2 separate regions of the Homo sapiens genome follow, and region 1 is linked to region 2. Evidence: fine-mapped expression QTL. A gene starts in region 2. The other region holds a variant in brackets. All regions are shown on one strand. Distances are between the middles of the regions. Region 1 overlaps TRIM23 (tripartite motif containing 23). Region 2 holds the start of SGTB (small glutamine rich tetratricopeptide repeat co-chaperone beta).

Region 1 (5,496 bases), 120 kb after region 2:
CCTAAGACCAAGGGGAAAATGTCTCTAGGCCATGTCAGAGACCTTCATGGCAGCCCCTCCCATCACAGGCCTGGAGGTCCAGGAGGAAAAAGTGGTTTCATGGGCTGGGCCCAGGGTCCCCATGCTGTGTGCAGCCTGGGGACTTGATGCCCTGAGTCCCAGCTGCTCCAGCTGTGGCTGAAAGGGGCCAATGTAGAGCTCGGGCTGTGGCTTCAGAGGGTGGAATCCCCAAGCCTTGGCAGCTTCCATGTGGTGTTGAGCCTGTGGGTGCACAGAAGTCAAGAATAGAGGTTTGGGAACCTCTGCTTAGATTTCAGAAGATGTATGGAAACACCTGGAAGCCTAGGCAGAAGTTTGCTGTAAGGGCAGGGTTTGGAGGGGCGAGGGGCAGAATGATATGCTTGAGATTTTGGGTGTGCCCCCACCCAAATCTCAACTTGAATTGTATCTCTCAGAATTCCCATGTGTTAGGGAGGGACCCAGGGTGAGGTAATTGAATCATGGGAGCTGGTCTTTCCTGTGCTATTCTTGTGATAGTGATTAAGTCTCACGAGATCTGATGGGTTTATCAGGGGTTTCCGCTTTTGCTTCTTCCTCATTTTTCTCTTGCTGCTGCCATGTAAGAAGTGCTTTTTGCCTCCTGTCATGATTCTGAGGCTTCCCCAGCCATGTGGAACTGTAAGTCTAATTAAACCTCTTTTTCTTCCCAGTCTTGGGTATGTCTTTATCAGCAGCATGAAAATGGACTAATACAATGTGTATACCACATTTTGTTTGTTCATTCATCTGTTGATGGAAACTTGGGTAGCTTCCACCTCTTGGTTTACTGGGAATAGTGCTGCTGTGTACGTGAGTGTACAAATATCTCTTCAAGACCCTGCTTTCATGGTCTTTTGGATATATACCCAGAAGTGAAGTTGGTAGATCATATAGTAGTTCTGTTTTTAATTTTTTGAGGAATCCCCATACTGTTTTCCATAATGGTTGCACCATATTACAGTTCCACCAGTGGTGCACAAGGGTGCAGTTTCTCCACATTTTCACCAACACTTGTTATTTTCTGTTTTTGGATAGTAGCCATCCTGATTGGTTTGAAATGATACCTTATTTGTTTTGATATCCATATCTCTGATGACTAGTGCCATTAACCATCTTTTCATATAATTGTTGGCCATCTGTATATTGCCTTGAATATGTCTATTTCTGTCCTTCGCTCACTTTTTGATTGGGTTGACTATTTTTGTTGTTGAATTGTAGGAGTTCTTTGTATATTCTGGATATTAATTCCCTATCAGATCTGTGACTTTCAAATATTTTCTCCCATTTCATAGGTCAATTTTTCACTCTGTTGATTTTGTCATTTTATGCACAAAAATTGTAAATTTGATGTAGTCTATTTTTGCTTTTTTTTTTTTTTTTTTACTGTGCTTTTCGTGTATCCCTGAAGTCACTCTCAAATGCAATGTCATGAGGCTTTTCCTCTGTTTTTTCTTCTAGGAGTTTTATGGTTTGGGGTCTTAAGTTTATGGCCATTTTGAGTTAATTTTTTTAGGTGGTGTAAGATACATAACATCCTTTTGCATGTAGATATCCAGTTTCCCCAGCATCATTTATTGAAGAGACTGTCTTTTCATTGAGTGGTCCTGCACCCTTGTTGAAGATCATGTGACCCTATTCCTGAGGGTTTATTTCTGGGCTCTCTCTTCTGTTCTGTTGGTTTGTATGTCTCATCTTTATGCCAGTACCACATAGTTTTCATTATTGTAGCTGATATGGCTTGGATCTATGTTCCTGCCCAAATCTCATTTCCAGTTGTAATCCCCAATGTTGAAATGGGGCCTGGTTGGAGGTGACTGGATCATGGGGGCAGTTTCTCATGAATGGTTTAGTATCATCCCCCTTGGTACTGTCTTTGCCATAATAGGTGAGTTCTCATGAGATCTGGTCGTTTAAAAGTGTGTGGCACCTCCCCCACCCTCTCTCTTGCTCCTGCTCCTGCCATGTGAAATGCCTCACTCCCTCTTTGCTTTCCACCATGATTGTAAGTTTCCTGAGGCTTTCCCTGAAGCCAAGCTGATGCCAGCATCATGCTTCCTGTACTGCCTGTGGAACTGTGAGCCAATTAAACTTTTCTTTATAAATTACCCAGTCTCAGGTATTTCTTTATAGCAGTGCAAAAACAGAACAATACATTAGCTTTGTAATATATTTTGAAGTAAGGAAGTGTGAGTCCTCCAACTTTTTTCTTTTTCAAAATTGTTTTGGCTATTCAGGGTCACTTGAGCTTCCTTATAAATTTTAGCTTAATTTTTTCTATCTCCACAAAAAACATGATTGGGATTTTGATAGGGATTGCATTGAATCTATATAAATTACCTGGGCTGTTATTCATATCTTAATATTTTATGTCTTTCAATCCATGGACATGGA[A/G]TGTCTATTTATGTCTTAATTTATTTTAGCAATATTTGTAGTTTTTAGTGTACAAGTCTTTCACCATCTTGGTTAGGTGTACGCCTACATATTAGGTTGGTGCAAAAGTAATAGTGGTTTTTGCCATTAAAAGTACTGGCAAAAGCCGCAGTTGCTTTTGCACCAACATAGTATCTTAAGTCTTTCACCATCTTGGTTGAGTTTATTCCTAAGTATCTTAAACTTTTTTTTCTGTACATGTTCAGAGAAACTTCTTTAGTCATAAACTATAAAAATGATCCCTGAAAGTATAATTTTGATGCTATTTTAAGTAGAATTGTTTCCTTAATTTCCTTTTGGGATTTTTATCATTAATGTATAGAAATGCAACTGATTTTCATGTTGATTTTATATCCTGAAACTTTGTTGACTTTATTCTAATAGGTCTTTTTGTGTGGACTCTTCAGGGTTTTCTACATACAAGATCATGTCATCTGTGAAGAGATATAATTTTACATCTTCCTTTACAATTTGGATGTCTTTTATTATTCTTCTTGCCTAATTGCTCTGTGGGCATCTTCTTGTTCTTTATCTTAGAGAAAAAGCTTTCAGTTTTTTGAGTATGATGTTAGCTGTGGGCATTTCTTATATGGTGTATGTTAACTGAGGCAGTTTCCTGCTACTCCTAGTTTGTTGAATGTTTTTATTATGAAAGGGTATTGAATTTTGTTAAATGCTTTTTCTGCAACTATTGAGATGATTACGTGCTTTTTTTCTCTCATTCTGTGTATTATGCTGATTGATGATGAATAATTCTTGCCTTCCAGTTATAAAGCCCATTTGGTCATGGCGTACAATCCCTTTAATATGTGTTTTTTTTTTTTTTGAGGCGGAGTTTCGCTCTTGTTGCCCAGGCTGGAGTGCAATGGCGCGATCTCGGCTCACTGCATTCTCCACCTTCCGGGTTCAAGCGATTCTTCTGCCTCAGCCTCCTTGTAGCTGAGATTACAGGCGTGCGCCACCATGCCTGGGTAATTTTGTATTTTTAGTAGAGACGGGGTTTCTCTATGTTGGTCAGGCTGGTCTCGAACTCCTAACCTCAGGTGATCCACCCCCAACCTCGGCCTCCCGAAGTGCTGGGATTACAGGCATGAGCCACCACGCCCGGCCTAATGTGTTGTTGAATTCAGTTTGCTAGTATTTTGTAGTTTCCTCCTGGTTGCACCTCATCCTCACTATGTTGGATATGGGGAAGGGCAGGGATGAGTGCACAGAATGCCCCAAATTTTATTACCCCTTTCACTGGAATGCCTTCTTGGTTTTATGGCCTGGGTGCTGTAGTTTCTTAACTGTTCTCTAGAGTTCTCACAGAAGTAGTTCTGTTCCATATATTGTTTTATTTCTGAGGTGTATAACTGGACTTAAGTATAGATTTGGAGCCATAATATACATGGTAATTAAAGCTCATGAAGAGAATGAAAATATGTAGAATGAGAAGGAGGCCTCATATAGACCCTCAAGAATACCAACATTTAAGAGCTGGATTAAAGAAAAATTAGAAGGAACATCCAAAAATGGGATAAAACCAAACCAGGAAAAGTTTGTATCATAAAATCCAAGCAAAGAGTGCTCAAAGGAGTAAGCAAAAATAACACATATATTTTGGGAACTGTTGTAAGGACTTTTATATGTATTCTTAAAAATTAATCCTTTCAAGAATCCTATGTAAATTTTGTACTATTTTAATCCTCCTTTTATGAGATGAAAGAAGTGAAGCAGAGAAATCATGCAGCTAGTAATATATAAAAATGTTCATTATAGCATTATTTGTAATATCATAAAATCAGAAATTACCTAAAATCTATCAGTTGGGGGTTTAGTTAAATTGTGGTTTATGAAATGTAAAGAAGCCATTAAAAGAAAAAGGTTGGTCAATATGTATTGACAGGATTCCATAATATACTGTTGAGTGAAACACATTAGTTTCAATGTGTGGGTAATACTTTTTTAAAAAAAAATTTGTTTTGTTTGTGTATGTTGGCCAGTATGTGCATGGAAAGTGTCTGGAGGGATATACATCAGATTCATAGTAGAAATTTCTGGGAATTGAGCAGCACTTTTTCATTTTAATTGATTTACCCTTATTGTGATTTTTTTAGTATAGCATAAAAACATGTTTAAGATTTAGAGGATTCATTTGAGTTAGAAAATCTGAGAAAATTAAGTGGGTATGTATATTCTGTTATACAAAGACAAAGTGGTCAGTTTTACTAAGGCAAGATTTAGCCATGGGGAAGGATTTCATCTTCTTGAGATCAGACTCAGTATTTTGAGGAATACAATTCAGATTGCAATGGTTGAGGAATGAATAGGAGATGTAGAAATAATAAAGGTGCTAAATGCTATTACTTTCTAACTGCATGTCAAACATATTTAAAAATATTTAAATTGTAGGATAATCGAGTTCACATTGGACCAAAAATGGAAATTCGGGTCGTTACGTTAGGATTGGATGGTGCTGGAAAAACTACTATCTTGTTTAAGTTAAAACAGGATGAATTCATGCAGCCCATTCCAACAATTGGTAAGTATGAATATTGGTTTTTACCTTAATAGACAAACCCTAGCTTACAGCCAAGTTCTTGGGGTCTTATTTGATACTGATCTGTCATGGTGGTGGGCTCTTTTCTGGCTCTAAGATATCAGCATCTCAGAGAAAAAATGCAAGATTGTATGACTATGGGATTGAAATGTGGATGGGGATAAAAAGAAGAAACAGAGTATTGGTGGGACAGTTGGAAGGAATAGAGGATTGGTGATCCTGGCTGAGGGTGTGGGGTGGGGGGTAGTTGTGGAACAGAGCTGGAAGGTACATGGATCCCAAGGTCCTAAGGACCTTGGTGGAGGTTTAGAGGGCTAGGAGCTGTTACAGGTATACATTCACCACGTAGGAGTAGGAATGGGGTTGATTAGGCTTCAGTAGATATTGCTGCATGTAGATAATTTGATAAGTCACAGTTATAAACTGGGGGTTGTCTGTGTTTGATATGTCATTCATTGTAAATACAAATATAGTATAAAAGTAAC
Region 2 (5,256 bases):
CTGGCTAACAGGATGAAACCCCGTCTCTACTAAAAATAAAAAAAAAAAATTAGCCGGGCGTGGTTGCGGGCGCCTGTAGTCCCAGCTACTTGGGAGGCTGAGGCAGGGGAATGGCGTGAACCCGGGAGGCGGCGCTTGCAGTGAGCCGAGATAGCGCCACTGCATTCCAGCCTGGGCGACAGAGAGAGACTCTGTCTCAAAAAAAAAAAAAAAGAAAAAAAAAAGAAACAATGCCACTCCTAGGATAACTGTTATCAAAACCAGGAAATAAGTGCTGATGATGATGTGGAGAAATTGGAATCCTTAGGTACTGCCAATGGGAATGTAAAAATGGTACAGCCACTGAAGAAAACAGTATGGTTTCAAAAACTAAACATAGTACTATCCTATGACTCAGCAATTTTCACTTCTAGGTACATACAGTATCCCAAAGAATTAAAAGCAGGGATTCAAACAGACATGTGCACATTAATGATCATAGTAGTAGTATTCACAATAGCCAAAAGGTGGAAGCAACCCAAATGTCCACTGACAAATGGATAAACAAAATGTGGTATATACATACAATGAAATATTATTCAGTTTTAAAAAGGAAATCCCGACACATGCTTCAAAACGAATAAACCTTAAAAACGCTATACTAAATAAACCAGACGCAAAAGGACAAATATTGTCTAATTCCACTTATATAAGGGACCTGAAATACTCAAATTCATAGAGAAAAAATAATGGTTAACCAGGGATTGGGGGAGGAAGTAATGGGCAGTTATTGTGTAATAGGTACAGGGTTTCAGTTTGGGATGATGACAAGTTCTGGAGATGGACAGTGGTGTTGGCTGTACCTCTCAATTGTACACTTAAAAATTATCAAAATGGTAAATTTTGTTATATCTTACCACAATTTTAAAAAAAAGGGAAAAAACCCCACAATGTTAATCTTCTCACTGATTGGGGGGCGGGGGGGTTGGTTTGGAAAATAGTTATTTTTCATTAAAATCACTATTTATGCACCTAGCCTATTTATTAGTTTTGTAAATTAACAACTACTTTAATTTTTTTCCAGCTTTAATGTCTAATATGGTAAATATAGACAGATATACCACACAAACAGAAGCTCTTAGGTCCACGGTAATTTTTGAAAGGTAAAGGGGTCCTGAGAATAAAAAGTTTGAGAATTGTTCTTTTTTTTTTTTTTTTTTTTTTGAGACGGAGTCTTGCTCTGTCGCCCAGGCTAGAGTACAGTGGTGCGATCTCGGCTCACTGCAAGCTTCGCCTCCCGGGTTCATGCCATTCTCCTGCCTCAGCCTCCCGAGTAGCTGGGACTACAGGCGCCCGCCACCACGCCCGGCTAATTTTTTGTATTTTTTAGTAGAGACGGGGTTTCACCGTGTTAGCCAGGATGGTCTCGATCTCCTGACCTCGTGATCCACCCGCCTCGGCCTCCCAAAGTGCTGGGATTACAGGCATGAGCCACAGCGCCCGGCCGAGAATTGCTCTTATATGAAGATTTATTCCCTCCTCTCACCCCTGCATTATGTGAAGTCTTCATTTCTTGGTATAACTTCATTTGACAGCTATATCGATTGCAGCCTGGAGACTAGCAAAAAACGACAGGCTGAAATATGGTCACCAATCACCACATTAACTCTTTGTAATTAACCACTGTCGCCTGCCTGCTCCCTAACTCTACGGACTGAGCAACACAAAGCTCCATCCACACAGACGAGTGGCAATGTGCAAAAGGGAACTGTAGAAAGCTTAAATGCTGACATGTTACAAAGTAGTTTTGTTGATAGCTAGCAAGAAGCACACATTTTCTTTATTCTGTTGAATCTTCATTTGGATTTACAGTTCTGGGCAGATTTGGAAACGGGGATGGTGGCGGCATTGTTTCCGAAAACCAGCGCATCCGTGCAAAGAATTTAATTCCCTCACCATCTTGCTACTGGTCTGTTGCAGTGGGGTGTGGTTAGAGGGCTAGGAAGCAATCCAAAACAGCAGCTCAGGCTGCCCAAAGCCGTGTCCAAGCGATCATTTTCTCCATTTTGGGCCAAGTCAATTTGCACCGGCAAGAGGCAGAATGTTTGTTTTATGGGGAGGAGGAAAATAAAAAAGGAAGTCAGAGAGCATGGACGGAAACAAGCAACACCACCAAAGAGGTTTCATCTCGGGTGGATGTTAAACGATTGGAATGCTAATAATGGGCGCGAGGAGCAAACACAATTGTTCTGAGTCCACAGCTGCGGCACTTTTAATGACAGGTCTGTAGTTCTGCATTGGGATTGAACGTGAAATGATTTTCTTATCCAAACTATTTGCATTCATTTTGGGCCGCGTCTGTGACCAGCCTCGCTGACTGCGGCTGAGGCAGTCCCAAACAAAGAGGAATGGACGTCCTCCCGAGGGAGCGGAGGCGGGAAAGGTGGCCCCAGGTGGCCGCGCCAGGTGTCCCCCAGGGGTCCACCTTGCAAGCCGCGGGGAGGGTGCGTCCCGGGAGCGTCGGAGAGGCGCGGTCGGGAAGGGGTGGGTCCGGGCTCCAGGCACCACACGGCGAAAGACCCCGCCCTGCCCACGGCCAAGGTTAACCCGCGCGCTGGAGGTACCTGCGGAGGCTTCGCACAGCCAAAAGGCACCGGGCGATCATGGGAGCGCTGAGAGGCTGGCGGCGGCGGGCGCGTGGTCCTTCGGCGTGGGGCGGCGAGGCGGGCGGCAGCGCCTGGGCGCCCGGGAGTCTCGAGCCGGCCTAGCCGCAGAGGCCACAGTGGCTGCCTGGCCAGCGCCCTCCCACGTGCGGCAGCTCCACGCCGGCGCCTACCAGCCCCGCCCCGCGCCGTGCCCCGCCCCAGCTCGCGTGTCTGGCCCCGCCCCAGCCCTCGCGTCCGGCCCCGCCCCAGGGGCGGTGCTGGCCAGACCCTGCCGCCTGAGAGAGAGCACAGCCTGGTGGGTTCTGGGGTCTACGGCCTAGGGGCCGGGGAAGTTTGCGCCGCCGCGACCAGTGCTGCGATCCCGAGCCGGGCTCCAGCCCCGAGGACCAGGGGTCGGGCGGGCCTGCCTACGGAACCCCGCGGGCCAGCAGCAGTCGTCTCGCGTCCTCCTGCTTGGTAAGGGGCTTCTGTCTGGCAAGGGTGCGCCTCCCGCCGCTCCGGACCGGGGCCCGCACCGGCACCCGCTGCACACCGGGCAGGGCCGAGGCGAGGCCGGGTACCTGAGGGAGGACGGAAGGGAGGGGGAGCTCGATGCGCTCTGGGGAGAGGAAGGGGGAGAAGCCTATTTCCCTCTTCTCACCCCTTTTCCCCCCATTCTGTTTTTACCTTCTGCCCTGGGGCCTTATTTAGTGCTTATGACCCCGTGGCCTAGAGGCTGACATCGCCTTTAAAATAACTACACAAATAATAAACATTATAGCGGCGGGTACCACACCCTGGCTTTGAATTAGGGAACCTGGGGAGCAGATGGATGATGCGATTTGGTGGAAATCAGCCATGAATGCCGCCTGGCCCTGCGCCACTGTTTGGATGCGATAGTATTCCATGTGAATGAACATGACCGGGAGCTTCCAGCTTGTCCACGAGAGCACAGCCTCTGCAGGGAGCGCCGGTCGGCTTGTAGTATCCATCGACTTGGGCAGCGATTTCCTGACATGTCTGCTGATTAAATAGAAATGCCATTTTTATTAAGAACGACACTCACCACTTGAATAACCTTTCGCGAATGTGTTTCCTCATCAAATAACTCTCAACCTACAAAAGTGGGTAGAGTGTACATTATTAATACTTTTTTTAGATCCCATGAAAAAGAGGAAGATGCTTGGTATACATCAGCTTTTAGTCAGCAGTATGAAATGCCTCTTAACTTAGTACTGAGGCCTTTAGGGGATTTCTGTATGGTGAGATATGCAGTGACAGTCTAAGCTTATGCTGTACATGTTTTGAAGACATTTTTACTTATTCCAAGATTTAACATACTCGTATACCACTGGGTATTAATGAAAATATGTAATAAATTACCTTCACAATACTTTGTGCTCTCCTGACTCTTTACAAAGAGAAAAGATGAAAGGTCATACAGTTTTGTGTTTTGTTTTTACCTTTAATACACTTTATAACCCATATCATCTTTGTAATTTATGACTTTCCTGACTGATTCTTTAAAATAACTTAGTTCAGTGTTTTCATTTTTCTTATCAAGGAAAAGTGTTTAAGCTTCTAAAATGTCATCTATCAAGCACCTGGTTTATGCAGTTATTCGTTTCTTACGGGAACAAAGTCAGATGGACACTTACACCTCGGATGAACAAGAAAGTTTGGAAGGTATGCATCTGCTCTTTGTGTTCATTTATATTATAATTATAAACGAAGACTAAAATAGCTGTAAGCCCAACTTGATGATCTATTGTAACATAATCAGAATTTTTTTTGATCTTTCAAGAGGAGAGGCCTGACTATAAGGTTATCGTATTTCCATTTTCTGAAGCTTGTTTTGTTTGTTTTAACAACAAATTAAGAGGACTATTGTTCATTTATTGAACAAATACTATATGTCAGAAGTATGCTGTTCATATTATAGGCAATTTTTTCTTCACAGCAACTGTTATGTTAGTATTATCCCCATTTAACAAGTGAGAAAATAAAACCAGGGCCAGGCTTGGTGGCTCATGCCTGTAATCCCAGCACTTTGGGAGGCCGAGGCAGGTAGGTCATTTGAGGTCAGGAGTTCAAGACCAGGCTGGGCAACATGGCAAAACCCTGTCTCTACTAAAAATACAAAAAGTAGCCAGGTGTGGTGGCACTTGCCTGTAGTCCCAGCTACTCAGGAGGCTGAGATAGGAGGGTGGCTTAAACCCAGGAGGTGGAGGTTGCAGTGAGCTGAGATCACACCACTGCACTCCAGCCTGGGCCATGAGCGAGACCCTATCTCAAAAAAAAAAAAAAAAAAAGAAAAAGAAAATGAAACCAAATAGCGTAAGCAGATAACACAGCTGATATGTGATAAAGCTGAGATTTAAATCCTGGTTAATACTCTGAAGATCTTGTTGTCTCCATTTCCTAATAGGAAAGCATCCAGTTTAGAAATAATATATAAAAATACCTGAGTCATTTTAATAGCACTATGTAAAAGTCTAATAATTATACCACTAGTGAGATCTGACCAGTGCCTAATTTGGAACTTGAAATGGGAGCATTTCACCTGTGTTTTACGTTAACTTTAATATTGGATTCGGTAATCTGTAAAGTTGAACAGGATGTGGGTGATAGC

Evidence for each region. PIP is the estimated chance that this variant, and not a neighbour inherited with it, causes the effect. A credible set is the group of variants that fine-mapping cannot tell apart.
Region 1: its variant is the best candidate, but not a certain one, in a credible set for the expression of SGTB in whole blood (INTERVAL, PIP 0.85).

Annotation. Positions count from the first base shown.
Region 1 is chr5:65,596,548-65,602,043 of GRCh38, reverse strand. TRIM23 (tripartite motif containing 23) reads left to right here. Exons shown (of 11, transcript NM_001656.4): 8 at 4,864-4,993. Among named protein-coding and RNA genes, the nearest start is that of TRIM23, 25 kb to the left of the region's middle. The variant A/G (reference allele first, on the strand shown) is at 2,431.
Region 2 is chr5:65,719,762-65,725,017 of GRCh38, reverse strand. It overlaps SGTB (small glutamine rich tetratricopeptide repeat co-chaperone beta), which reads left to right and starts at 2,909. Exons shown (of 11, transcript NM_019072.3): 1 at 2,909-3,101; 2 at 4,189-4,310. The coding sequence starts at 4,211. NLN (neurolysin) reads right to left here and starts at 2,813. Exons shown (of 13, transcript NM_020726.5): 1 at 2,604-2,813. The coding sequence starts at 2,644. RefSeq lists enhancers at 1,549-1,628, 1,401-2,222 and silencers at 2,499-3,108, 3,179-3,228, 3,289-3,338.